Linked DNA regions of Homo sapiens: all the other regions are linked to region 1. Evidence: fine-mapped expression QTL. A gene starts in region 1. Each other region holds a variant in brackets. All regions are shown on one strand. Distances are between the middles of the regions. Region 1 holds the start of EEIG2 (EEIG family member 2). Region 2 has its middle 21 kb from the start of EEIG2. Region 3 overlaps EEIG2 (EEIG family member 2).

Region 1 (11,480 bases):
TTTTGCTTCCAGTCAGTTCCATATGCCAGAAACACTGAGGTTTCCTAGAGATAATTCTCAATCCTGATTATCTCTTTGCTTCTTCACTCCTCTCTTCCTCTCAATTTAAGGAGGCTACTTTGAGAACATCAGACTTAAATGTGAAGACCACACCCTAAATATAATCTTTGTTTCACGGCTGAGTCTTAATGGGCCCTTGTTGCTCAAGAGCTTTTTCAATCTTATTTCCTATTCTTTGAGGTATAGAGCAGTTAGTTTTTCCCATCCCTTGAGGCTCCAAATTTCTGGACTCTCTATATTCCTTTTAATTTATGCTTGCAAACCTGCTAATTATTGCATGAGTTCATCTTATGTTTCCAATATCTTACTGAATGCAGCCATAAATATAACCTACTAACATTCCATTTTTCAACCTCTTATAGAACTATGGGTTTCATAGATATCTTACTTTCTTACCAAATTATTGTAGGTATAAGATTGATGGGAAAGCTTCCCCTCTGCCTTCTGAAGCTTTGCTGAAATGACTGACAATAGACAGATTAACAGGAGAAAAGGCATACAAATTTATCAGTGCACATGGACAGAGTAGTCCTGCGAATATGAGACTCAAAGAAAGACCAGAGGGTTGAGACTTAAATATCCTTTTTGTAGGGGAGAGGTAAAGGGGGAGTGTACGCATTTTTAAGGGGTAGTAAATGCTTTTCAAGGGAATTGAATAAACCTGTAAGAATTGTCACACCTCTGGCAGTAAGCAGTCTTAGCACATGTCTATTCACTCTGTTGTTTTACCTGAGAGTTAACACACTTAGGATAGGTCTATAAATTCAGGTCATTTCAAGAAACATGTATTGAATACCCACTAGGTACTGGGCTATTTAGAAAAGATACAAAGATGATCAGCAAACCATCCCTGCCTTTAAGAAACTTGAATTATAAGTACTGGAGTAGATACTTAGCCTCAACATTCATTCCACCATCCTATCTGAAGAAGTTGGAAAGCTGAAAATTACATTTCTCAGACTCCTTTGCCACTCAATTTTTGGGTGCAAATAAGGCCTGCCAAATAAATTTCCTTATGAAAACACAGGTGCAAGTGAAATGGAGGCTCTCTTCTTACTGCTGTGTCACTTGCAAGCAAGGTGTGATGACATGCCTGTGGCATTCAGACTCCTCATAGTCTTGACAGGTGTGAGCCAGTGGTGGTGGCAGCAGCAGTAGCAGTGTTCTAGTGTCAGCTTCCCATCCCAGCTGCAGTGTATGTTAGTCAGAATAAACTAGACTTATGCTGTAGTGACAAGCATCCCCCAAAATCTCAGTGGCTTCATATAATAAAAGTTGCTTTCTCACAGACAAAATGTTTCCTGCAGGTGTGGGCAGTTGCTCTCCATGTGCTGACTTAAGAAATCTGGGCTGCTTCAATCTTGTGGCTGCTACATCTTAACCCAAGGTCTCCTCTATAACTATTGTGGCAGGGAAGAGGTAGTCTAGAGAACTGCTCAAAGGCTTTTCACTGTTTCATCCTGGAAGTGACGTGTTACTTCTCACATTTTATTGGCTAGACCTCATCACAAGGCCCCACTAACCGCAAGGGAATTGGGAACTGTAAACTCCCATATGCTCAGAAATCAAGGAGGACCGGATACTAGTGAACACTAGTAATGTTTACCACAAAGCATGTGACTTTGAATTCGACAGTCTGCTGACCTCAACCCCTTCAGCCCTTCCACAGATTTCAGAAGCAGTGAAGTGCCTGAATGAAATCCCTTTTTTTTTTTTTTTTTGAAACATCCAGAGTGGTTTCAGCTTCCTATGGTGAACCCTGACTGTATCCTTTGTGTGCTAGTGGCTTTCCATCCCCTTACCTCCAACCATTCTCTACCTTTCAGTGCCCTACTTTGTGCCCCAGGAGTCTGTCCTGTATGAACTGCATGTTCCGAGCCCCTCTACCCTCTGGCCTTGGTTGGTTTTGGATCATGGGAAGCACCACCAAGAGATCAGAAAGTAGGAGGTGAGAGAAATCAGGATATTTATCCCTTCTTCCTTTCAACTTCTCACCAGACTGTGGGTCCCTTACCCTGTCAACTCTGTGAAGAGTCCTTTCATTAAATTTTCCCCATTTAAACACATTGAATATGATATCTGTTTCCTGCCTTGACTATGACTCCTATCAGGGGTTTAATAATCAAACCATGAGTCTAAAAAACAGTAACAGACTGTCTCCTATCTTCCATTTTATAAAGTAGAAGAGCTTTACAAAATGTAAATCTGAATATATCATGCTTCTTCTTTAAAACTTCAATGGCTCTTTGTTAACCCCTGTCACTGTACCCAACTCTAAGTTGCAGCCAGACAGAACTAATTTCAGTTCCCTCTGCAACATGGTCTCTCTTCCTTTGAGCCTCTGCACAGACACTACCTCCTTCCTGGAAACTGCTCCCCACCCATGCTCATTATTCAGGCCTCAGCTTAAAGGCCTGAATTCAGGCTTCACTTACCCTAGAAGGCATTCCATAAACCTACTACTTATCCCTGTTAGCTTTTATAGTCTCCCACAGCAGTCTCCACTCACCATCATACACAGACAGCACTCAGTGTTACATTGTACTGCAACTGCCTGCTTACTTCTCTGTGTCCTCCAGTAGACCGTGAGATCTAAGACAGGGACGGCATTTCAAATCCATAGGACCTATTAAGGTGCTTGGCACCTAATAGACACTCAATAAATATTGGATAGTTCCTGAATGTTATTGAAAAAGATTGAACTGTCCTCCTCTGGTCACCATTCTCTCTCTCTTTTCATTCGCTGACAAAAAAATCAGAAAAACATCAATAAAAATATAATTTTTATTTACCCACATTACTTTGTCACTATCTTACTTTTCACTGTCATCTTTTCACTTACTTTGTCACTTTTCATCTTACTTTGTCACTATCTTTTATGATGACTTCTCTTGCCAAGATTACCAATGACCTCCTAGACCTTCAATTCAGTAGCTTCTTTTCAGTCCAAATCCTCTGGGACTGCTCTGCAGCACTCTCTTGAAATGGTCCTCTGTCCTACATGGATCACAGATTGCTCTCTCTCTTTCTTTCTCTCTCTCTTCTCTCTCTCACACACACATACTCACATACCACACACACACACTTTAGTTGATCTGTTTGCATATCTCTGTTTTTCTCCATTCCTTTATAAGCCCCTATGTCTTATTCATTTGCATCTCTAGTACCCAGCATAGTGCCTGGCACACAATAGAACTTTGTAACTACGAATGTTACATGATTAAAACCGTCTGGGCTTCCAGGCCATCTCTTTCTTCATCTCCTTTTTCTCTTGACTGCTTGTTCTTAGGCACCTTCACGATCTCCTCTTTGCCTACCCTTTAAATATTCTTCAGAGTAACTCATCCTTATCCACCTTTTGGGCTTCAGCCATCAGCGATTACCTCAATTCCCAAATGTATATTTTCAATTGCCAATGCATTTTTATGAGCTAAGGCTGCCTCTCTCTCCCTAGATGTACTGCAAGCAGATCCCATAAAGACTCATTATCTCTTCCATTCCCAACCTGCCCTCCTCTTGCTTTCAATGTTCAGTCAATGAAATTAACATTCATCCAGTGCTCTAAATGACAAATCTCAAAGTCCCCAAATGCATCTCACTGTCTTTGCCCCCTGTCCTGCAGGGTAAGAAGCTTTATCCATTACCAAATCCCCACCCCCGAACCTGCCTCTGAATCTTTTTTTTTTTTTAATTTATTTCTCCTAGAACAACTTACCCCACTTTGTCCCAAATCATTTTCATCCTTTGAAATTCAGAAAACTGATTAACTTCAATTAATTGCTTCTCTGAGTTCTACATAGCTTGGTGCTAGGTTGTGTTTTTTTAATGACCTGTCTAAACATGTCTTCCTCACTAGATTGTAAAATTCTTGAGGGCAGTTATTGGCTTTTGGTTATGGGGTCTAGCCGATGATTGACATTTTAAGCAATTTTTTTATATGAATGAATGAGTAAACGAGTAAACTGAGAAAGAAAATATTTTCAATTAAACCCTTTCAGAATTACTGTGGCAGAATCTGAGTGAAAATGACAATAACTCAGTTTAAAAACATGAACATCACGTAACCAACTTTGTAACATTCATTGTAACAATACATGCATGATTACAGAAGGCAGGTAATTGTTATTCCCCTAGGGAGATTTTTTTTTAAGCCTGCTCTGAAGATTTTGTTTTGTTTTTAAGACAGGGGCTTGTTCTGTTGCCCAGGCTAGAGTGCAGTGGCGCGATCTCCGATCATTGCAAGCTCCGCTTCCCCGGCTCAGGCTAACCTCCCTCCTCAGCCTCCCGAGTAGCTGGGATTACAGCGTAGCCATGCCAGACTGCCTGCAGAATTTGATTTTAAGCATTTCAGTTCTCAGTATAGACAGACAAATTTTTAAAGGGAGGGTATTATTTTAACTGCTTCTTTGCTCTTTTATCTTTTGTCCTGGGTGACAGGAACTAGATAAGCTATACCCCAGAGAAAGCGCCTGCAGCAGTACGGTGCCTGGGCCCTTGATAGTCCCTCAGCACATCATTTTCCTTTTTCCTACCTTATCTTCCTTTTATATTTGAAGGCTCGTGAATTTAGAGTACCTAACGGAAATTTTAGTTTTAGGATTTCAATTTGACCAAAACAACGCTGAGATTTTAATTGCCTCTATTAACCCATGGCTCTCAAACCCAAAGGAAAGAAACCACTGGAGGGGGTGGGGGAGAAAGGAGGCGGTGCAAAAACTGAAAAGAAAGGCGGAGAGGAAGCGGTAGAAGGAAGCTTTCTCTGTCGGGTTTGTCTTTTTTTAACCCCAGAAAGGCGTGACGTGCTAACTGCCGTCGCGGGTTAGAGTCCGCGGCCAAGCCCGCGCCCGCCCACAAAGTCCCCGCCCTCCCTCCGGCTTCCGCCCCGCCGTGCGCTGCAGGCCGCGGCCGCTGGGGGCGCCCCCGACCCCCGAGGCGCTGAGGCGGCGGTTCCTCGAGCCTCGCCTCTCCCGACTCCCAGACGGGCGGCAGCGGCGGCGGAGGCGGCGGCGGCGGCGGCGGCGAGCTGAGCACCAAAAGGGCGCTCACCTCCCCGGGCGAGCTGCAGCACGACCGCTCCCCGCGGGCGGTCGGGGTCCGCGCCGCAGCTGCCGCCGCGTTCCGGCCCAGGCTGCCGCGAGAGGCGGCGGCAGCGGCCCCGGCCGCGGCCGGCCTGCGGCGCCCCCCGGCCGCGCCCCCGCGCACAGCTCGCGGCCCCGGCCATGGGGCTGGGCTGATCCGGGGCTCGGCCAAGCTGAGGCGGCGGCGCCCGGCCGTGCGCCCAGCTTGCAGGCGCCTGGCTCTCACGATGATGAAGAAGAAGAAGTTTAAGTTTAAGGTGGACTTCGAGCTCGAGGAGCTCTCCTCAGTGCCCTTCGTCAATGGGGTCCTCTTCTGCAAGATGCGGCTGCTGGACGGCGGCAGCTTCACCGCCGAGTCCTCCAGGTAACTCGCCTCCCGCGCCGCCTCGCCCCTTTCTGCTTGGCCAGGGCTTGTTGGATGGGCAGCATCTCTCCTTGGCCCATTTGCTCGCCTTTCCCTAGGGACCGCTCTAAAATCAGTCGAATTTATTGATCTGCAAAGTGCTTTGCAAATGGGTTCTTCTCAGCTGGCCTTGGTTCCTGCGCTCCTGACTCCAGATGGTGCCTGGTATCTGCTCTTCCCTCCCAAATCCTCTAGGAATGGGAGCAATGGCCAGAGAGGGAGGATGCTTCTGTTTTCTCTTAAGACATTTCCATATTTGTGAAATGCAAAGTAGAACTTGAGCTGTTAAAAACTAAAATAACCCAAACTGCAGGAGTTCCAAGAGCCCAGCTCTGAACAGAAACCTGTGCTTAGCACAATTCCTTCTCCCTTGTAGATTACAAGGGGACTTGGCCACCCACTCTGAGGCTGGGGTAGGCCTGGCCAGGCTTGACTTGAGTCAAGTGCTCCTGGCAGACGAGACAACGGTCTGTGCCTCATCAGAGAGCGGCGTCTCCAGTTAGGCGCTAATGCTGGATGAATTAGTCTTGAAGTGGCCACTAGTAGGTCTCCTTGTGGGAGGGCTTAGAGCCAGATGGGGAGCCCAGGCCCTGCCCTCATTTTAAAATGAGCCCCTGGGCACTCCCAGAGAGAGGCATTAGCAGGTTACAGAATGAAGCTATTAAATAATAGGTGTGGCATTAATAATAGGTGTGGCAGTGTTTCTTGAGTAATTTCAGAGCTACTCACAGGTTGACAGATGTACCCTAAGGTGCTTTCTTTAAAATATATACATAGAGAGAGAAAACAATTTTTTAAATGAACTTTTGAGTTCCTGAGATCAAGAAGGGTTAAAAGTTAATGTTATTTTGCCCATATATACTGGTCTTAGGCTTTATTTCTGCCCTAAAAATATTCTACTTAAAAAAAATTCCGTCATCCCATTTATAGTATAAAGGAAATAATGTCACTGGATTGTGGAATTGGGGCTAGAAACTTGTCTTTGGGGCAATATTGAAGCCTATGGAAGCCAGAAAATGTCTAGTTGGCTAAACCAAAGGATATATGAAATTAATAGTTTGCCGAAGACAGTTTTTAAAATTAAACTGTGGTGACACATCAGTGGATATTCAGCTAAGTATTTTAAACACCTGTAAGAGAAGAATGTAACCTATTTTGGTGCAAAAAAAATATTGGACCATCTCTTACTTGTTGAAAAGCCTAAGCCGATTCGTGAAGGTCCTGTTGGTGCAGGTGACAGTCTTGCCCTGAGGCCTAGACTGTTTTGCTGCAGGGTGCCACCCCCGACGCCAGGCAGTTAGACTGGCGCTCCTGGGCCAGTGGTGACACCTGGTGGTCAGGGCACTTGTCTACGGGGCTTCCTTCCTACCTCAGTTATGTTTATTTGGCTTACTTCCCACAAGTCACTTATTCTTTCGTTGTAGGCAGTCATTTATTCAGCAAATATGTGTTGGCTTCTAAATATATTATCTTATTTAATTCTCATAGCAAGTCTATAAGGTAGGGGTTCCATTTCGTAGATAAATAAACTGAGGCTCAGAAAGCATAACTAACTTTCCTAAGGTCCCCTCAGCTGGTAAGTGCGATGCCAAGATTCTGATCAGGTCTGTGTAACTTCAAACAGGGTGGTGCCAGATAAAGGAATAAATCGTGTGCCATATATGAAAGTTTCTGAATAGGGAGCTTCCTAATGACTTTAATGAGCAAGGGGTATACTCCGCAAGACTTAGAAATGAAAAAGTTGAGTATCTTGGGTTAAACTCACCCCTTTTTCTTCCAATTAAAATTTGACTTTGATCAATTTGATTTTAAGTAAGATTAGGAATAGTGCTCTGTGTAGCCAAACCAAAAAGCCATATAGTATGGGGGAAATGACTCACAATAAGGAGCCTGTGCCTTTGACATTAGGTAGAGATAGTTGGTGTAAAGCTAAGAGCAAGGATTTGGAATGCGGTGAGTCTAAGCCTAAACCCCAGTTCCACTGTGGTAAACCTGGATGGGTTACTTAGAGTCCCAAAACTTCTGTATGTAAAATAGAAACCATCACTGACATGTGGTGGTGTGAGGATTTAGTGAGATGATGTGCCCAAAACACCTAAACAGTGCCTTAGCACCCAGTTGGCATTTAAAGAGGAGACCAGGAACTTGTCCAAGAAGGTCCATTTGCTTGAGATGTTATATTTGATTCCTTTATCCTAACAACTACAAAATTGTTGGTTTGAGAAAGAGACCTCATTTTACAAGAAAAAAAAAAAAGAAAATCTGAAATATCTAAAGGAAGTGAATTATTTCAAAATCACAGAACTTTTAATTAGTGGGTGCCAGTCAAGGCAGTGCATCTCTAATTGAACGCTAGATTTTAACTTCTAAAAAATTGCTGTATGTGCCCCTTAAAAGTCAGGTGTAGTTAACACTGTAACATTTCTCCTGTAAAAATATGAAATGAATTACATAGAAAAGAGGTAATATAGCAGGCCCAAGACTGCTATTCTTAGAAAGGCCTATGTACAAGGCTGGCCCTTGGCTGGCATCTGGGAGCTTGAATGGTAAATGGTTCCATACATGATACAAAACTTTACGTAAATGATAAGAGTGGCTCACTGTGCCTAGACTGTACGGAGTGGTTTATGCTAAATTCCATCTGGAATTTTGGTTCTTGCTAGGCAGCCTACGTGACCAGCCCTAATACAAATTTTGGGCATTGAGTCTCTAATGAGTTTCCCTGGTAGACAGCACATCACAATTTAATTCTAGAGAAGTTAAGTGTGTGCTGATTCGACTTTGTATCTTTTCATTGTAATAAACCTTAGCCATGAGTAGGACTGTATGCTGAGTCCTGTGAGTCCTAATGAATCACCAAACTTAGGATTGGTCTTGGAGACTCCCTGATGGATGAACCTTTATAAAATAATACTCATCTTGCTACAGAAAAGCCTTAGAGGCACACAGAAAATTGCATATATAGATATAAATAGAGAGACCCAAATATATATAGGTCATATGTATTTGATATATATATTAATATATTTGGCTTTGTACAACAACTAAACATGCAGATCATTTATTCTTGGCCAAGTATTAGTTGAGCATTTACCAGGTTTCTATTAATAGCTCTCCATCTGGGATTGTGAGAAGTACAACAAATATAAGGATCCACAAGGGAATTACTTCTAATGAAATTAGATCATAGATGTATAATTGCTTGACAGTAGAAGACAGTGTGACTTAGTGCCCAATCAATGGATCAGACAATATATTGAGTGTTGTTGAAATTCTAAAGCAAAAGAGTTAATTTACAACTGTAATGGTTACTGACAACCACATTGGCATTTCTGTGGAGCACTCTGGGAGGATGAGTTTGCATTGACAAAGTGAGGATGGGAGGACAGCTTGAGCAAGTCATCAATAGGAGTTGATAATAGATCAGCCTGATTGCAGAGCGTTCATGTTGAATGGAAGCAGAAGATAAGATTAGAGAAAGACTTTGAATACTGTTGTAAAGAGTTTCTTTCTACTCTCTTTCTATAAATGAGAGTTGCTTTCTACTGCTCATAGGGTAAAATTAAACCTAAGATTCTTGAACTGAGTTGTTGTGTGGTTAAAGTGGCGTATCACCTGGCTGACAGGCTGATGCTATCTGTATTCAAGGTTGGGTGGGGGGGAAATTAGAGATGGGGAGACAAATTAGGAGGCTATTAAAATAACCCAGGCAGGAGCTAATGAGAACCTGAACTCCGAGGTGTCTCATGTAAGTGACTGATAAATGATAATCTTATGACAGATGCCTTGACGCCACCACAGAAGTAAAGAAGTCAGGAAAATTATTTGTTTTGTTTAAGGGGAATATTGCATATGGTGGTGGAAGATATAGTGGGTTAAGTTGTATGCTTAGCATGCTACATTTGAGGTGACAGCCTGATGAGTAGTGGGAGGCATTTATGCGGTATGTGGATTTCTTAGATGTTGTCTATTGGAGCCATATAGGCCTGCTTACTAAACTTATTTAGAATTTCCTTACATTGTTTTTACCCTTTTAAAGATTATTAGTGAAAAAAGGCCAGGCATAGTGGCTCATGCCTGTAAATCCCAGCACTTTGGGAGGCCGAGACACGCGGATTGGTTGAGCTCAGGAGTTTGAGACCAGCCTGGGCAACATGGCAAAACCCCATTTCTACAAAAAACATACCAAAAAATTAGCTAGATGTGGTGGTGGGCACCTGTAATGCCAGCTACTCAGGAGGCTGAGGTAGGAGGATCGCTTGAACCCGGGAGGCAGAGGTTGCAGTGAGCTGAGATCACCACCACTGCACTCCAGCCTGGGCAACAGAGTAAGACTCTGTCTCAAAAATAAATAAATAAAAATAAAGATTATTAGTGAAAATTAATTTTAGAAGCCAGTTTTTCTTGGTATTGTTTTCAATGAAGAGATTGGAAAAATATAAAGACTAAAAGGTAATTATTTGTAATAAATATTATTAAAATGGTCAGGGTAAATTGTCAGATTTTTACATGCCATAGTTAATAAAATATTTGGAAAATACATTGTACGATTATGGTGGTCTATTCAACTGAGGCTAAATTGTTGTCTAATAAAATACAGTCATGTATCAGTTAACAATGAGGATCTGTTCTGAGGAGTGCATCCTTAGGCGATTTCATCATTGTGCAAAAGTCATAGAGTGTACTTACACAAACCTAGATGGTATAGCCTACTACGTGCTTAGACTATGTCGTATAGCCTGTTGCTCTGACCACATCGTGTATTTGGTCTGTTGTTGACCAAAATGTCCTCATGCAGTACATGACTGTATTTCTGAAGATGTTTCAAAAGGACAGTATTATTGTATTTAAATCTTTTCACCGTACTTCCTTTGCAAAAGCATTTAAATCACTTTTAAGGTTTATTAAAACTGGCATGGCAGGTTTAATTCTGGCCTACTTAAACAAAGGAATAATAGGAAGAAATTTTTTCTATATCTTTTAGAATTCCCTAGTTTGCCTTATTTTGTTCATCTTTTTTTTTGTGCTGATAGCCAAATAGTTTTCTAAGTTTCACATGAGGCTGTGGCAGAAACACATGTGAATTTGGGGAGTGTCTGGGAAGCTGATGAGCACATCTATGTATTGGACCTTTTACTCTAAACAAGCGGAAAGGATTTCTTTCTTTTGGCCAGAGTACATCCTTCTGTTTTCAAGATTTTAGTTCACTGCACATTGTGTATTTCTTTTTAGTAAACATTTCTTTATTGAAAAAGTAATACAGATTCATATGGACAACTTAGAAAATAGAAAGGCAGAAAGAAAGGAACAAAAATTGCCCATAAATGAACCACCCAGGGATAATCACTATTATAAATATTTTAGTATAGAAATTAGGAGCCTTTATTGATCTGTACACATACATGTATGACCACACTCCCCCACACAACTATCACATACCCTTTTTAAGCCAAAATGAGATTATACTATACTTAGTATGGTTTTTTACTTCATGTATCTTTTCATATCATTAAATATTCAATTACAAGATTATTTTAATGGTGCATATTATTCTATTGTATGAGTTTCCATGACTTATTGAACCAAGTCACTTTTGAAAGGCTTTCTCCTTTCCTTTCTTTTTTGTTAATAGTTTTATAAATAAACTACAATAAACATCCTTATAACCAAGCTTGGTATACATCCATTATTATTTATTTAGGATTAACACTTAGAAATGGAATTATAGAGTCACAGGGCATGCAGATTTTTAAGGGTTTTGATATATATTACCAACTTGCCCTTCAGTGCATTAAATTGATTTTTTAAGATTAGTAATCACTAATAAGCAGCAAATTATCAAAAGTTACTAGTAGTAGAAAGTACTGTCTGACCATATGGCACAGAATTATTTATACACTAGATCCAGCAACCCCACTTCTGGGTATACATTCGAAGGA
Region 2 (11,480 bases), 22 kb before region 1:
TACTCTAGAGGCTGAAGTGGCAGGATCACTTGAGCCAAAGAGCTCAAGGCTGCAGTGAACTATGATTGCATCACTGCACTCCAGCCCAGACAACAGTGAGACCCTGTCTCTAAAAAATAAAATAAAATGCATACTTTTTGAAGCATCAGTAACCAGGAATCTCTATTAAGCTTGTATACCATTCTTGTCCTGCTCAAACTCAGTCATCTCAATTCCAACCAGATGTCCAAACCAGAACCCTGGGAGCGATTCTTGTCCTCTCCCTCTGCCTCAGTCTCCATATCCAATCATCCCCCACAAAGCCCTGTTGAATATCATTCTAAAATACATCATGAGCTTTTTCACGCTCTCTGGTTAAAGGTAGTCCAAGTCAACACTGTCTTACATTGGGGCTGCTACAATCAGAATTTTTTAAATAAAAATAGTAGCAAACACCTTATAATCCTTACTATGGGTCAGGTACCCCTCTAAGTGCTTTAAATGCATTAGCTGATTTATTCTTCTCAATAACCCTATAAAGCATTCTAGCACCACTTGAAGATGAAGAAACTGATGCACAGAGAAGTTAACTGACTTTCCCAATATCACACAGCTAGGAAGTGGAGGAGCCAGCTGTCCCCTCCTCACTGACCCTTTGCACTCACACCTGCCATCCTCCGGTCTGATTTCCACACAGCAACCAGTGTGATTGTTTAAACAAGTAACTTTTATACAGAACCAGAAACCTTGAAGTGAGAACAGAAAACAACTTTATTCTTTTCTTCCCAACAGCCTGATCAAACCGGCTCTGCAGGACAGGTTCTTTCCTGGCGCCTGGGGCAAGTCCCTTGACTTTTTTTTGGTGCTGTCAGTTAATACGAATTCTCTCTTTCAGTCGCAAAATGGTCTCATTTCAATAATAAAAATGCCCAGTTCAGCGTGTTGGTTGAAACACTGAATTTCATTACAGTTAATGCTTCCTCCCCACCACCCACCCAAACCCCAAACCTGCTAGGGCTGGCGGCCTTTGTGGTGGGGCTGGCTCCTCTCTCCTGGCCTCCTCCTCTTCATTGTCTCAGCCGCTTCAGCCAGCCAAGGTTGGAGGGGCCAGGAAAGAGAGATAAGAAACAGAAAAGATCTTGTGTGACAGACACAGGCGTAATCTACCATTGACAGACTCTGGCCGTGGCAGGTGTTTAAAGCTGACTCTTACTCTCAGGACTTTTTTTTTTTTTTTTTTTTTTTTTGAAACGGAGTCTCGCTTTGTCGCCCAGGCTGGAGTGCGGTGGCGCATCAGCTCACCGCAAGCTCCGCCTCCTGGGTTCACGCCATTCTCCTGCCTCAGCCTCCCGAGTAGCTGGGACTACAGGCGCCCGTCACCACGCCCGGCTAATTTTTTTGTATTTTTTAGTAGAGACGGGGTTTCACCGTGTTAGCCAGGATGGTCTCGATCTCCTCACCCTAGATAGTCCTCTGTAAGTTCCGCTGATTGGAGCTCATTGAAATAGGCAAAGCCTCGACCTTAGCTGGATGCTTACATACCCACTCCAGCCCCACGTTCAGCTTCTGAATCTGAAGACACGTCTCCAGCCTCTGTCTGCTAAGGTTGTCTGGTGTGGACAGAAGTTCTCTTAAGCATGATCCCCTTTTAAATGACCGCACGTATATATTCCTCCCAAGGATTTCATACCTTGGAGCTGCCAATGCAAACTGTCAATACTAGTTAACTTTCCAAATGCAGTTCCTTACTTTGATGACAGTAAGCTATTTACCAGGTATTTCTGTGACCCATGGACTCCAGAGGCTACAGGTCAAACCTTCCATGTGGTCTCCTTGGAGCACCCCTCACTAGCACACCTGAGGCAAGGTAAAAATACCTGTCCTACCAATCTCTCATGGGGTTGTAGGGAAGACATGATGCATTGGAGATTCTTTCAATGGGAATTTCCAAAACTCAACTATCTCCTTGGCCTTTTCAATTTTAGTTCCTATATAGCCTTAAGATAGGCAGAGGGGTGAAGATCCACAGAAGTGGTTTCAGCACCTCTTTCATAATTCTGCCATAGATGATCTCACTCACTGCACTTTGAAATGTGGGGGTAATTAGGCCCTCAGCTGCAGTGAATCAGGAAGAGTCCCATTTTAACACTCTGTTAGAAATACCACATCATGCCTTTCCATCGCTATTAGCATTAAATACTAAAAAACACTAATCATACTATGTCCTTCCACTGCTATTGCGATTAAACGCTAACTCTTTACCACATTCTATGGAGCACTGCATGATATGGGCCTTGCCTACCTGTCTAGCCTTGTTTCATAACTCTCTTTTCAGGTTCAGCTGCATTGGTCTTCTTGCAGGTCCTTGGATTCTCTAAGCTCTTTCCTACCTCAGGACCTTCATACATGCCTAGGAGATTCTTCCTCCTACCACTCTTGTCCTCATTTGTTAGGTCTCAGCTTAAATATTATCTCATAGCAAAGGATTTTCCTGAAGTATTATAGCTCTCTGCCCCCAGCCAACTATTCTCATTCATATATATTATTTAACTTTACAGCATTTACCACAAATTGTAAATGTGTGATTGTGTATTTTCTTTTTTTTTTTCTTTTTTTTTTTTTAATTGATCATTCTTGGGTGTTTCTCGCAGAGGGGGATTTGGCAGGGTCACAGGACAATAGTGGAGGGAAGGTCAGCAGATAAACATGTGAACAGAGGTCTCTGGTTTTCCTAGGCAGAGGACCCTGCGGCCTTCCGCAGTGTTTGTGTCCCTGGGTACTTGAGATTAGGGAGTGGTGATGACTTTTAACGAGCATGCTGCCTTCAAGCATCTGTTTAACAAAGCACATCTTGCACCGCCCTTAATCCATTTAACCCTGAGTGGACACAGCACATGTTTCAGAGAGCACAGGGTTGGGGGCAAGGTCACAGATCAACAGGATCCCAAGGAAGAAGAATTTTTCTTAGTACAGCACAAAAGGAAAAGTCTCCCATGTCTACCTCTTTCTACACAGACACGACAACCATCCAATTTCTCAATCTTTTCCCCACTTTTCCCCCCTTTCTATTCTACAAAACCGCCATTGTCATCCTGGCCCGTTCTCAATGAGCTGTTGGGTACACCTCCCAGCCGGGGTGGCAGCCGGGCAGAGGGGCTCCTCACTTCCCAGTAGGGGCGGCCGGGCAGAAGCACCCCTCACCTCCCGGACGGGGCGGCTGGCCGGGCGGGTGGCTGACCCCCCCACCTCTCTCCCTGACGGGGCGGCTGGCCGGGCGGGGGCTGACCCCCACCTCCCTCCCGGACAGGGTGGCTGCCAGGCGGAGACGCTCCTCACTTCCCAGACGGGGTGGCTGCCGGGCGGAGGGGCTCCTCACTTCTCAGACGGGGCGGCCTGGCAGAGACGCTCCTCACATCCCAGACGGGGCAGCAGGGCAGAGGCGCTCCCCACATCTCAGACGATGGGCGGCCAGGCAGAGACGCTCCTCACTTCCTAGATGGGATGGTGGCCAGGCAGAGACGCTCCTCACTTCCCAGATAGGGTGGCGGCCGGGCAGAGGCTGCAATCTCGGCACTTTGGGAGGCCAAGGCAGGCGGCTGGGAGGTGGAGGTTGTAGTGAGCCAAGATCACGCCACTGCACTCCAGCCTGGGCACCATTGAGCACTGAGTGAACGACACTCTGTCTGCAATCCTGGCACCTCGGGAAGCCGAGGCTGGCGGATCACTTGTGGTTAGGAGCTGGAGACCAGCCCGGCCAACACAGCGAAACCCCGTCTCCACCAAAAAAATACGAAAACCAGTCAGGCGTGGTGGCGCGCGCCTGCAGTCGCAGGCACTCGGCAGGCTGAGGCAGGAGAACCAGGCAGGGGGGTTGCAGTGAGCGGAGATGGCAGCAGTACAGTCCAGCTTCAGCTCTGCATCAGAGGGAGACCGTGGAAAGAGAGGGAGAGGAGGGAGAGGAGGGAGAGGAGGGAGAGGAGGGAGAGGAGGGAGACGGGAGAGGGAGAGGGAGAGGGAGAGGGAGAGGGAGAGGAGGGAGAGGAGGGAGAGGAGGGAGAGAGCGTGATTGTGTATTTTCAAGTTTATGGCCATATGGCCAGAAACTGGTTAATGATTTACTAAATTATTTCTGTTTTCCTACTGGACATACAGTTGAACTACATATCCCAGCCTCCCTTGCAGTTAGGTACAGCCATATGACTGTTGTAGTCAATGGAATGTAGGTAGAAAAAGAACACACTTCCAGGCCTGGCCTGTAAAATCTTGCCACATCTGATCCCCTATTCTTTTTTTCCATTCACCGCCTTAATAGAGAAGATTTCAAAGACCCAGAAAAGCATACAATCACAAGAGGAAAGTGATCTGAGTTAGTGCTTAGAGGAGAGAGTCCAGTATAGTCAAGATATCAGCAGCAGCCTCACTGGACTATTGCTTGAGCAAAAAACAAATTTTTATTAGGTTAAGTCATTGAATTTTCTCTTATAGAAGTATTCCAGCAAGTAAATTGAAGAAAGAATGACAGAATTAGATTACCACTATATTAAACCCTAATGAATTCATGAATCTAGACAATGATCATCAATGGCTATTATTTGTGATGGGAAGAAGAAGAAGAAGAATATTCACAGAATATTAAATATATTTCATTGCATCCTGGGCTCTCTTTTCTTTCTTTTGTTTTTCAATTTTTATTTTAGATTCCAGGGTACACATGCAGGTTTGTTAGAAAGGCATATTGCATGATGCTGGGGTTTGGAGTATGATTAAACCCACCACCCAGGAAGTGAGCATAGAACCCAATAGGTATTTTTTCAACCTTTGCCCCCCTTCCTTCCCACTCTTGTATTTCCAAGTGTCTATTGTTCTCCTCCTTATGTCCATGTGTACCCCATGTTTAGCTCCCACTTATAAGTGAGAACATGTGTTATTTGATTTTCTGTTTCTTCATTACTTCAGCTGCATCCATGTTGCTGCAAAGAACATGGTTTCATTCTTTTTTATGGCTGTACAGTAATCCATGGTATATAAGCATTAATACCACATTTTCTTTATCCAATCCACTGTTGATGGGCACCTGGGCGGGGTCCATGTCTTTGCTATTGTGAATAGTGCTGCAATGAACATACAGGTGCATGTGTCTTTTTAGTAGAATGATTTATTTTCCTTTGGGTATAAACTCAGTAATGTCATTGCTTGGTTGAATAGTAGTTCAATTCTTATTTCTTTGAGAAATCTCCAAACTGCTCTCCCCAGAGGCTGAACAAATTTGCATTCCCAGCAACAATGTGTAAGCATTTCCTTTTCTCCACAGCCCCACCAACATCTGTTATTTTTTGGCATTTTAACAAAACCCATTCTGACAAGTGTGAGATGGTATCTCATTGTGGATTTGATTTGCATTTCTCTGATGATTAGTGATGAGCATTTTTTCATGTTCGTTGGCTGCTTGTATATCTTTTTTTAAGAAGTGTCT[T/G]TTCATGTCCTTTGCCCATTTTTAATAGGGTTATTTGTTTTTTGCTTGTTGATTTAAGTTCCTTATAGATTCTGCATATTAGACTTTTGTCAGATACATAGCTTGCAAATATTTCCTGCCATTCTCTAGGTCATCTATTTACTCCATTGATAGTTTCTCTTGCTATTCAGAAGCTCCTCAGTTTAATTAGGTCCCACTTGTCAATTTTAGCTTTTATTGCAATTGCTTTTGAGGACTTAGTCATAAATTCTTTGCCAAGGCTGATGTTGAGAAGGATATTTCCTAGGCTTTCTTCTGTTATAGTTTCAGGTCTTACATTTAAGTCTTTAATCCATCTTGAGTTAATCTTTGTATATGGTAAGAGATAGGGGTCCAGATTCACTCTTCTGCATATGGACAGCCAGTTATCCAGACACCATTTATTGAATAGAGTCCTTTTCCCACTGCTTACTAGCGGTAGATGTGTGGCTTTATTTTTGGGTTCTCTATTCTGTTCCTTCCATTGGTGATTTTCTATTTTTGTACCAGCATCATGCTTTTTTTGGTTACCATAGCCTTGCAGTACAGTTTGAAGTCAGGTAATGTGATGTCTCTGACTTTGTTCTTTTTGCTTAGGATGCTTTGGCTATGTGAGCTTTTTTGGTTCCATACAAATTTTAGAATAGTCTTTTCTATTTCTGTGAAAAATGAAGTTAGTAGTTTGATAGGAATAGTGGGCTCTTTTTTCTATTTATATTCACCTCCAGATGATCACATTTGGTCCCAGCCTTTTCATACATCTAGCCATTGACAACTTCCACATTTTTATCTCCAGAGCTATTAATTCCAGTGAAGTTCTGGATTTCTATATTCAACTGCCTCCTCAAAGTCTCTACTTGGCTGTCTAAAAATTTCTCAAGTTTAACATGTACACAACAGAACTCTTTACTTCTCTCCAAAAACCTCCTCCCACAGTCTTCCACATGTGAGCAGATGAATCTAAGCCACCATCATATCTCATCCAGTGATAGCTGATGTCCATATAATGAGTTCTTCACACAACATCTAGGGTGCATGAACTTTTCAAAATTCAAATCAGATAATGCCACTTCCCTGTTTGAAACCTTTGTACAGCTTTCTGATACACTCAAAAAAATTCAAACATTTTTTCATGGCCTCCTCCTTCTTGGCTGCTCTGACTTCATTTTCTACCACACTTTCCAATGCACACGCTTCTCAAATCTTCTTATTGTTCCTTGAAAGAAGCAAGCTCATTCCTGCCTCAGGGCCTTTGTATTTGCTATTCCCCTGCTTGGAACTCGGTTCTACCATCTACTTATGGCTTTGTCCTGCACTTCATTCAGACATCCTTAAGAAGGCTTGTCCAATCTATCAAAAATAGCACCTTGCATCCTCCCACTGTCCCTGCCCATACTCTTACTCTATTTTATTTTTTTCTTTGAAGTTATTACTATTTGATATTACGTATTTGCTCACTTGCCAGAATGGAAGCTTCATGAATGCAGGAATTTTGTTTGCCTTGTCCATTGCTGTTTCTTCAGTGCATAGAAGAGTCATTACCAATGAGTGGGAACTCAATACGTATTTGTTAAATAAACAAATTGATTAATGGATTATTGTTGTGGGAAGTCAGGGACCCCAAACTGAGGGACTGGCTGAAGCCATGGCAGAAGAATGTGGATTGTGAAGATTTCATGGACATTTATTAGTTCCCCAAATTAATACTTTTATAATTTCTTATGCCTCTCTTTACTGCAATCTCTAAACACAAATTGTAAAGATTTCATGGACATTTATCACTTCCCCAGTCAATACCCTTGTGATTTCCTATGCCTGTCTTTACTTTAATCTCTTAATCCTGTCAGCTGAGAAGAATGTATGTCGCCTCAGGACCCTGTAATAATTGCATTAACTACACAAATTGTACAGCATGTGTGTTTCAACAATATGAAATCTGGGCACCTTGAAAAAAGAACAGGATAACAGCAATTGTTCAGGGAATAAGAGAGATAACCTTAAACTCTGACCGCTGGTGAGCCGGGCGGAACAGAGCCATATTTCTCTTCTTTCAAAAGCAAATGGGAGAAATATCGCTGAATTCTTTTTCTCAGCAAGGAACATCCCTGGGAAAGAGAATACGCGCCTAGGGGTATAGGCCTATAAACGGCCCCCCAGGTGTGGTCGTCTTTTATGGTCTGTAGACTGTAGGGGTGAAATAGACCCCAGTCTCCCATAGTGCTCCCAGGCTTATTAGGAAGAGGAAATTCCCGCCTAATAATTTTGGTCAGACCGGTTGCTCTCAAAACCCTATCTCCTGATAAGATGTTATCAATGACAATGGTGCCCAAAACTTCATTAGCAATTTTAATTTCGCCCCGGTCCTGTGGTCCTGTGATCTCGCCCTGCCTCCACTTGCCTTGTGATATTCTATTACCTTGTAAAGTATTTGTTGTCTGTGACCCACACCTATTCACACACTCCCTCTCCTTTTGAAAATCCCTAATAAAAACTTGCTGGTTTTGTGGCTTTTGGGGCATCACGGAACCTACCGACATGTGATGTCTCCCCCAGACGCCCAGCTTTAAAATTTCTCTCTTTTGTACTCTGTCCCTTTATTTCTCAAGCTGGCCAATTCTTAAGGAAAATAGAAAAGAACCTATGTGACTATTGGGGCAGGTTCCCCGATAGATTATAAACAAGTGACCATAAAACCTTCCAAGTTTGACTCAATCACAGTTATGAGCCACATTTAGGAAACCCTGACATACAAGCATTCTGTCATTTATTGACTGGGTAAACTTGAGAGAGATGCCTGATCTCCCTGTGCCTCAGTTTTTTCATCTGTATAATGGAGGAATAATGTCATCTGTTTCATAAGAGTGCAAGGCTTAAATAAATGAATAATGAAGTTCTTAGACTAGAACAATGCATAGTATAATACATAGTAGGTACTCAATAAATGTTTGCTGACATTATTATTATTACAGAATTCCAGATTTTCAGTGTTTAAATTAAGAAAATAGAGGAAAGGGCCATTTTTCACATTAAAGGAATTTTTAAAGTCATAAACAATAAATATGTATTGGGATTTACAAAGCAGGCCTTAACTGCATGAGAGGTAAGAAGTAGCAGAGAAACTTAGAATGAAAGTATTAAAAATCGCTTCCAATTACAAATCACTATGAAATAAAAATAATTATGAAAATATGAGGTAGTCATTCAGATTTGATTAACAACCAAAATAAATCAGTTTATATACAACTTTTCAGGAATACACCTACAGGGTAAATTAAAAGACATCTGAACTCTTCAATACTTAACGTCACCATAATCGGCAAAGACAGATGGAGCCCTTTCCTCCTGCCCTTGCCCCCTCTATTCCACATAACCATTATATCCCTCTCTTACTAACAACTTCTATCTTGAAGGCAGCAACATGATTCATGCTATAGCCCAGGCTTATCATATTAGGGCAAGACCAATATACTTAGCCTGAAAACAGGGTTCCACAAATGAAGGTGCTTGATTAGCTAAGCTACATGTTAAGAAATCACTTCTGCACTAAAAGTAAAGCCAAAAATTGAAGCCAAACCTGAATAATTTTGATAACACTTGCTTTTAAGTAAGTTGTTTCTGCATTTATCTCAGCTTCATTTCCTACACGTCACTGAGGGGAATTTTTCCTCTTTTTATCATCCACAATTATTGTTCTGGCATTTTGTTGTTGTGTTGGTTTGTCTGTTCATTTGCTTTCTTGCTTTGCTTGCATCCTGACGGATTAAAACCATCAGGGTGAGATTCTGCTACAATCTTCTTCAGCCAAACTTACTTGCCAAGTATGTAGCAGTCTTCCTGTTCCCACATAGCAACCTCCCATCTTTTCTTAGTATTTTGAAGCATGCCAAAGAAAGAAAATGATACTGGGTGTCTCAACATACCTTAAGATTTGGCCCTCCTGTCCCTCAAACAACCTAACAAACAAAATATAGCCATTTACAGAGCCCACCACAGCTCAGCAAGGCCTACTACCTCTGTTGACTCCACCTCTGGGGGCAGGGCATAGCTGAACAAAAGGCAGCAGAAACTTCTGCAGACTTAAACATCCCTGTCTGACAACTCTGAAGAGAGCAATGGTTCTCCCAGCATGGCATATGAGCTCTGAGAACGGACAGACTGCCTCCTCAAGTGGGTCCCTGACCCTAGTGTAGTCTAACTGGGAGATACCTCCCAGTAGGGGCTGACTGACACCTCATAAAGGTGGGTGCCCCTCTGGGATGAAGCTTCCAGACGAAGAATCAGGCAGCAATATTTGCTGTTCTGCAATATTTGTTGTTCTGTAGTCCCCGCTGGTGATACCCAGACAAACAGGGTCTGGAGTGGACCTCCAGCAAACTCCAACAGACCTGCAGCTAAGGGATCTGACTGCTAGAAGGAAAACTAACAAACAAGAAAGGAATAGCATCAACATCAACAAAAAGGACATCCACACCAAAACCCCATCTGCAGGTCACCAATATCAAAGACCAAAGGTAGATAAACCCACAAAAATAGGGAGAAACCAGAGCAGAAAAGCTGAAAATTCTGAAAACCAGAGTGTCTCTTCTCCTCCAAAGGATTGCAGCTCCTACCCAGCAACAGAACAAAGCTGGACAGAGAATGACTATGACAAGTTGACAGAAGTAGGCTGCAGAAGGTTGGTAATAACAAACTTCTCTGAGCTAAAGAAGGATGTTCAAACCCATTGCAAGGAAGCTAAAAACCTTGAAAAAGAGGTTAGATGAATGGCTAAGTAGAATAAACAGTGTTGAGAAGACCTTAAATTACCTGATGGAGCTGAAAACCATGGCACAAGAACTACGTGACTCATGCACAAGCTTCAGTAGCCGATTCGATCAAGTGGAAGAAAGGGTATCAGTGATTGAAGATCAAATTAATGAAATAAGGCAAGAAGAAAAGTTTAGAGAAAAAAGAGTAAAAAGAAATGAACAAAGCCTCCAAGAAATATGGGACTATGTGAAAAGACCAAATCTACGTTTGATTGGTGTATCTGAAAGTGATGGAGAGAATGGAACCAAGTTGGAAAACACTCTTCAGGATATTATCCAGGAGAAATTCCCCAACCTAGCAAGGCAGGCCAACATTCAAATTCAGGAAATACAGAGAACACCACAAAGATACTCCTCAAGAAGAGCAACCACAAGACATGTAATTGTCAGATTCACCAAGGTTGAAATGAAGGAAAAAATGTTAAGGGCAGCCAGAGAGAGAGGTCGGGTTACCCACAAAGGAAAGCCCATCAGACTAACAGCAGCTCTCCCAGCAGAAACTCTATAAGCCAGAAGAGAGTGGGGGCCAATATTCAACATTCTTAAAGAAAAGAATTTTCAACCCAGAATTTCATATCCAGCCAAACTAAGCTTCTTAAGTGAAGGAGAAATAAAATCCTTTACAGACAAGCAAACGCTGAGAGATTCTGTCACCACCAGGCCTGCCTTACAAGAGCTCCTGAAGGAGCACTAAACATGGAAAGGAAAAACCGGTACCAGCCACTGCAAAAACATGCCAAATTGTAAAGACCATAGATGCTAGGAAGAAACTGCATAAACTAATGGGCAAAATAACCAGCTAACGTCATAATGTCAAGATCAAATTCACACATAACAATATTAACCTTAAATGTAAACAGGCTAAATGCCCCAATTAAAAGACACTGACTGGCAAATTGTACAAAGAGTCAAGACCTATCAGTGTGCTGTATTCTGGAGGCCCATCTCACATGCAGAGACACACATAGGCTCAACATAAAGGGATGGAGGAAGATCTACCAAGCAAATGGGAAGCAAAAAAAAGCAGGAGTTGCAATTTCAGTCTCTGATAAAACAGACTTTAAACCAACAAAGATCAAAAGAGACAGAAAGGCCATTAAATAATGGTAAAGGGATCAATTCAACAAGAAGAGCTAACTATCCTAAATATATATGCACCCAATACAGGAGCACCCAGATTCATAAAGCAAGTCCTTAGAGAC
Region 3 (7,296 bases), 73 kb after region 1:
ATAGGTGGGAATTGAACAATGAGAACACATGGAGACAGGAAGGGGAACATCACACACCACGGCCTGTTGTGGAGTGCGGAAGCGGGGAGGGAATAGCATTAGGAGATAAACCTAATGTTAAATGACGAGTTAATGGGTGCAGCACACCAACATGGCACATGTAAACATATGTAACTAACCTGCACGTTGTGCACATGTACCCTAAAACTTAAAGTATAATAATAAAAAAAGAAAAGTTCTGAAAAACCAAATACCATTTTGCTAGTTATTCAGATGCAGATGAAGAAAAGTCACCTGCCAAACTTACATTGATTATCAGCACTGCAGCAGATAATAGTGAGCACAGACACCAAGGACAGTGTAGGAATTCTAATCACTCACTTGCTCCTTAACAACCTGCTCCCCACACTTCTGTGCACCCCTAATTCCATTCCATGTCGTATTTATGTAGAGTCCCTGCACAACTACAGAGTGAGTCACAGTTGCAGGTGGGTAGCTCCTTGGACCAAGACAGTTATTGTATTCTCTCGTGGTCAAAACCTAAAAGAATTTTGCATTCATTTCTTTTACTAATACTCATTTTAATGAGTACCTCCTATTTGTCCAGCACATTACAAGGCTCAAAAATAGACTAACAGCAAAAACCTACATCAACGATTAACTACAATCAGATATCATAAGTAGGTAAGAGAGAGACATATAAAGCTACTTTCAGGGAGTAATGTGAAAAAGGATTTACAGAAGATGTAACACTATTTAGATCTTTGATTGACTCATCTGCTTATTAAATTCAGTAACTGTTTCTTGGGCCAATTTGTAGGTAAGGATGCAAGTAGAAAAGACCCAGCTCTTACCCTCTGCTGGCTTATGGTCTAGCACATGGGGCTGGCAGGCTATAGCCCATAGGCCAAATTGGCCCACTACCTGTATTTATAAAGTTTCATTGGAACACAACCATGCCTGTTTATTTGTATAGTGTTTACTGCTGCTTTGATGCTACAGTAGCAGAGCTGAGTGGTGCAGCAGAGACTCTGTGGCCCACAAAGCCTAAAATATTTACTGACTCTTTTTTACAGATGAGATGGACAAACTAAAAGTCATAACATTATAATAAATACTGTAATAGAGGGAAGTTTGAGAGAACAGAAACAGGATCTCAGAGTTCACACTTGAAGAGAGACTTTGGGAGAATAAAAAATAAGTGGGGGGCTTATAAGGTGAATATGATGAATACAAATACTCCTGGTAACAAATAGAATGAGTTTATAAGTACAGTAATTATGATATATAATTATATCATAATAAACATATAGCAATTATAGGTAGCATTGAGCATTTATTAGTTATGTGCCAGGCACAGGTACATATATATTTTTTATTCAATTCTTATGTAGTAGTATCTTTCAGTGCTCACAACATACTACAATTAGTTTGGTGTTTTTTTAATGGAAACAAAGATACAAAGAAGTAATTTGAGGCTGGACATGGTGGCTCACACCTGTAATCCCAGCACTTTGGGAGGCCGAGGCAGGTGGATCACTTGAGATCAGGAGTTCAAGACCAGCCTGGCCAACATGGCAAACTCCCATCTGTACTAAAAATAAAAAAATTAGCCGGGTGTGGTGGCGGGCGCCTGTAATCCCAGCTACTTGGGAGGCTGAGGCAGGAGAATCACTTGAACCCAGGAGGTGGAGGCTGCGGTGAGCCAAGATTGCACCACTGCACTCCAGCCTGGGCGACAGAATGAGACTGTCTCAAAAAAAAAAAAAAAAAAAAAAAAAGAAGAAGAAGAAGAAGTAATTTGCCCAAGGCCTTAAAACTAGTAAGTGGTAAAACCAAGATTAAAACTCATGTCTCTTTGAGTCCAAATCCCATTGTACTTAACCAGTATATTTTACTGGCTCATTAATAATATAACATAGTTCAGGTTCTTCTGAGGAGAGGGGGTTGTGAAAGGGTATTTAGGGGCATGAGGTTGGCAAGCATCTCTGAGCTAGGTTGTAAAGGGCCTCACTTGCCATAACAAAGTTTCTTCTTCTCATGTGCACAGTGGGGAGCCATTGGCCATCTTTGCAGGGAAGTGACCTATCAGATTGGCATTTTAGAAAAATAACCGGCCATAATTTGAAGGGTAGATTAGAGCAAGGAAAGACCAGTAGCAGGGGGAACTAGGTAGAAAAGTAACATTTATGAGGACAGTGGTATGAATGATGGAGTGAACATGTGTTTTTGAGTTAGAGACTTGGGTTCACATCCTAGCCAGACCACTTTTGGGGCCTGAGTAAATCACTTAACTTCAATAGAACTTTAGTTACCTCTGCTGAAAAGTAGGAATAACCATGCCTATCTCATGGAGTAATTTTAAAGGGTAAATGACATAATATACTCAGTAAGCCCTGGCTTTATTAATTTAGGTACAGAACAGCAGAAAAGGTAGTTCCAACCAAATGGAATTTTTTTTTCTAAGAGATAGGGTCTCACCCTGTCACCCAGGCTGGAGTGCGGCACAATCTCAGCTCACTGCAGCCTTCAACCCCGGGCTCAGCCTGCTGAGTAACTAGGACTACAGGCATGCACCACCATGCCCAGCATTTTTTTTTTTTTTTTTTTATAGAGACAGAGTCTCACTGTGTTGCCCAGGCTGGTCTCAAACTCCTGGCCTCAAGTGATCCTCCCACTCCAGCCTCTCAAAGTGCTGAGATTACAGGCATGAGCCGTTGTGCCAAGCCTTCAACCAAAAGGCATTTAAATAGTAAATGGTCAAAAGCACGGGCTGTCTTAGACTGCCTGGGATCAAGTCCTAGCTCTTCCACTATTGATTGATACTGTTGACCTCTGTAAGTCTCAGTTTCTTTGCCTATAAAATGAGAGTGATAAATAAGATCCTGAACTCATAGGATGTAAGACTAAATTAGATGACTTATGTAACATTTTTTGGTTTTCATTTTTGAAAGACAAGGTCTCACTCTGTTGCCCAGGCTGGGGCGCAGTGATGTGATCACAGCTCACTGCAGCCTCCAATTCCTGCACTCAAGCGAACCTCCTGCCTCAGCCCCTGAGTAGCTAGGACTACAGGTGTGAGCCACCATGCCCAGCTTTTCTTTTTTAACTTTTTGTGGACACAAGGTCTTGCTGTGTTGCCCAGGATACAGCCTGGCCCACTTGGGTTTTCTTACTGGGACCGGCATGCACCTGCCTGCTTTCCTTTAGGGACGTTAAATTTTTTCTGACAAGAAGTCTGCCTGTATTTTTATTTTATTCTTCTGTATGTGATTTGTCTTTTATATCTGGCTGCTTTTAAGATTTTCTGTTTATTACTGGTTTTTAGCACTTTGGCTATGATGTGCCTTGAATATGTTTTTCCTTGTGTTTATTCTGCCTGGGGTTCATCAAGCTTTTTGGATCTATGGGTTTACAGTTTTCATCAAATCTGGAATTCTCCAGCCATTATTTTCCCCAACCCCTCCTTCTGTTATTCTGATCTACAAATTCTAGTCCCTAGCCCCTCTGAGCTTTGATCTCTGACTCCTTCACTCAGAGAGACCAGCAGGCTGTGTTTGGGGTCTTCCTCTCTGCACTGCAGGCTCGGAAGATCCTGAAGGAAACTGCTTCAGGCAGCTAGCTGGGGCGGTTGTCGGGCTCTCTTCATTTATTTCTTGTTTCTTGGGACCACAGTCCTGCACTGCCTGTTGTCTAGTATGTGCAAACTGTCATTTCACTTATTCTATCCGGTTTTCTAATTATATAAGGCAGGAGGGAAAATCTGGTTCCTGTTACTTCATCATGGCCAGAGGCAGAACATATTTAAAAGGGCATCTAAAAGCCAGTGTGCCATGCTGCCCACCATGGTTTCTTCAAATTCTGATTTTCTGTAGGATGAATGGGTGCTCACTGGCATTCTGTTGAGGAAGTTCCTATTTCTTCTGTAGAATGAATCTGTGAGAACAGGAGTTTCTGGGCAATCAACTGAGAAGTCCAGCCAAGTCCATGGTGGGCTAGTAATCACTACCTTACTTCTGTTGTTTAGAATTTCCTCTTAAAATGCCATTAAGGAGAGACACTAGTCATGGTGGTTGCTTCTGGGCTTACTAAACTCAGGCACACTCATGGTAAAATGACAAGTAGTAGGGTATACCCTAACATCTTGACAAATTGGGAAATGGGTACCTGGTGATAACTTCAGGCAGTAATGGGCCAGGCGTGGTGGCTCATGCCTGTAATCCAGCACTTTGGAAGGCTGAGTTAGGAGGATTGCTTGAGCCCAGGAGTTCTGGTTGCAGTGAGCTTCAGTCATGCCACTGCACTTCCATCTGGGCAACAGAATGAGACCCTGCCATGAAAACGCCACAATATTATGACAGCTGAAGACCATCATCATTAACTCAGTGCAAGTCCTGATGCACTGCCAGAGTCAACATATGCTCTTGGATGAGACCTATTTTAGAATGAATAGATAAACATGTTTGAAGAGCATTTCTTGCCACCATTTGTCGATAGGTCAAGAATTGGGGAATTCTAATAGATTATTGTGGGAATAAGTGTGAGAGAATCAGGATCTAGGCTAATCCAATGTATTAATGATAAACATTTAATATTTCACATAGTTTCTATCCGTGATGCCTTTAAACGTTATGGAAATCAAATCTAGTAGAAAAATACCCAGTGCCCCATCTCTCCAGGGGTAAGGTTACTTGGAACAGTTTCAAACACTGCAGCTCAAAATTTTGAAGTTTTTTTCCACTGCTGTTTTAGGGTGGGGTCTGGAGCTTATGAACAAGTTGTGATCAAACGCTAGAAGTCAAGTCGGTGAAAACATTTCCTTGT[G/A]GATTTAAGATGTGAGTAGTTGATGTATCAAGGCATTTTATTCAAGCACTTAATAGAAAATGAACCTCAACTATCAAGAGGAAAGCCAATGCTGGTTTCTTCTCTGGAAGGACCCACCGCCATCCTGTACCAGCCACCAAAGGGGAACATCTACATGGCAGTCTCCAGGCACTGTGCCACTGTGTGCCTTGGAAGCACCTGGCTTCTGTGGTCACTGCACATCATAATGAAAAGCCTGCTTTTTCTTTCAGAACACCCCAGCGGAGAAAACAGCATTATATACATCGGAGTATCATTTTAGGATTCAAGTGTAAAAATCTGTGATCAAGAGGCTCAATAGATTTGGGCTCTATGGTTTGGTTTTTTTAGTTTGAGAGACAGTACATGAATATAACTTAAACCCTATAGATTTTGTCAAGATAGTTGTAATTCCTGTTCTGGAAATCTTCCCTATTACACTACCTACAGCATTGTATAAAGTGTGGGTGTTCATGCTTTGGGAAAATGTTAGACTACAATTTAAACATGTGATGTGCTTATTCATAATTCTCAGTGTATCAGTCATAAATGAAATAACAAGTGCATTTAAGTCAGAGATACGTGAATGGATGTAATGCCGTTATGCAGTATATATTGTTAATTGTCATTAATATTAGATGAGCTGCAGAACCACCCCCAAGCACTACATAAAAGACTCAAAATAAGTTTAACACTTACTGTGTTGGGCACCCTAACAGAAGAGCTATCTTAACTCATTGAATATTAAGATCTGCTGGTTTCAGGAGTCAAAATGTAGAAAAAGAGGAGAATTGTAATATGGTCAGAAACAGAGAAGCCTTTTCTATGTAAATTCAGACTTATCTGAGGCTAACAGTTTTCCGAAGTGGTGGTGGGTAGCAGCATGACAGCTGCTTGCCATGACTGATGCAGACTACTAGGTTTCCATTTTAGCTCTCTGTAGGTACTGTTTTCTTCCCCACTGTGTCGAAAGTGATTTGTTTTGAAGCAAGAGTAGAATATAACATCTATCAAATATAGCTTTTAAAATAAGAATACCTGGTCTGGATCCAGTTGAGCAGCACAGCAGATAAACCTTAGAGTTTTTCTGTTCTTACATGACGGTTTCCATGTGGAAAGATCTAAACTTTCTTGGAATCACTATTAGTGAAGAAAAATGTAGAATCTGTATAACCAGTAATTCCCCAATTCTTACTTTCAAAGTCATATCCAAGAAAGACAATATGTCAGAATAGAATGACTTTGGTCTAGGTGTTTTCACGTTGGCAAAAATAAGGAGGAAATTATATTATTTTAATATCCAAATTTAAAGGTTTGGAAAATTTTGAATAGTTAATATTAGAACTTATGTTGCTGTTTTTTATATTTCAAGGATTGAGTATTCTGCATTAATCCAATACTATTCCAACAAAGAGATTCTGGAAGTTTTTAAAAAATGATACCCTGTTTTATATTTTGAATGTAGAGAGACTCTGAGAGAGAGAATGTTCTGAGTTATACTTTTTATTTTTTAAGATTTATTTTTAAGAATAAAACATTGACCTGAACATTTTAGCCTAACCAAGGGACTTAAGTGGTAAAGACTTGCATTATGTCTTCATGTGAACTGATCCGTTCATTATATATTATGGGAAAAATCAAAGAAAGTTTTTTATAGAGATATGAAGATATTATTTAGAGAGATATTTATTATGACATTTTTTAAAAACATATTTTTCTATTTTCAAAATATTATTTCTAGGCTATATTTTTATTGGTGCTGTGCAAATGATTTTGCAGTTTTGAAAATGATAAAACTAGATTGTAAGTGGGGTTCAGTGAGGACATTCATCAGACACGTAAGAGGTGCTGCAATCAGGGTGATGCCCATCTTACTCATCCTTGGCTGCCCTTGGTCCGACACCTCTCTATACAAGACTGGTTCTCAGTATTTTAAATGGTACAGAATTCTTTTTAAAAAGTAGAGAGATTTTGAAAAGCATAAAAATCATGCCTTTATAATCTTAGCAGCCATCAGATACACCTTGATTTATGTAGTAGTAAATATAACAAATATTTTAATAAATAGAAACACTGATAAGGAAGAAAAAAGAACTAATGTCTATGTCTTCTGTAGTCAGCAAAAGTCTGGATCCATTTTCTATTTTGTGTTCCATTGGCACACTTTGTGTTCAAATTTCAGTGCAGTCCTTTCAAAATACTCGCTAAGGGTTGCCTAAGTGTCTGCCTTACTTTCTGATTGTCCTTTTCTGAGAGCATGGTTAAGAACATCTTAACCATATAGCTGTTGAAAAAATCTGTTTATTAAATAACAAGTTCACTTCTGTTTATGTTTTGAGTTTAGAAAATTTGACTTGAAAATTTAGATTATTAATAAATTTATTTTTAAATATTAAAGTCAAATTTCAAATCACCCAGTGTTGAAGAATTTGCAGATGTATACAATACTTTTTC

Evidence for each region.
Region 2: its variant is fine-mapped to the expression of EEIG2 in lymphoblastoid cells (GTEx, PIP above 0.99).
Region 3: its variant is fine-mapped to the expression of EEIG2 in whole blood (TOPMed, PIP above 0.99). The same link has a PIP of 0.9 or more in cerebellar hemisphere, cerebellum and transverse colon.

Annotation. Positions count from the first base shown.
Region 1 is chr1:108,555,064-108,566,543 of GRCh38, forward strand. EEIG2 (EEIG family member 2) reads left to right here and starts at 5,037. Exons shown (of 11, transcript NM_001010883.3): 1 at 5,037-5,502. The coding sequence starts at 5,366. RefSeq lists a silencer at 4,698-5,237 and enhancers at 5,628-5,727, 6,191-6,240.
Region 2 is chr1:108,532,894-108,544,373 of GRCh38, forward strand. No RefSeq gene overlaps it. Among named protein-coding and RNA genes, the nearest start is that of EEIG2, 21 kb to the right of the region's middle. RefSeq lists a cis regulatory region at 732-1,307 and an enhancer at 3,974-4,268. The variant T/G (reference allele first, on the strand shown) is at 5,453.
Region 3 is chr1:108,630,356-108,637,651 of GRCh38, forward strand. EEIG2 (EEIG family member 2) reads left to right here. Exons shown (of 11, transcript NM_001010883.3): 11 at 4,753-7,296. The coding sequence ends at 4,795. Among named protein-coding and RNA genes, the nearest start is that of HENMT1, 27 kb to the right of the region's middle. The variant G/A (reference allele first, on the strand shown) is at 4,825.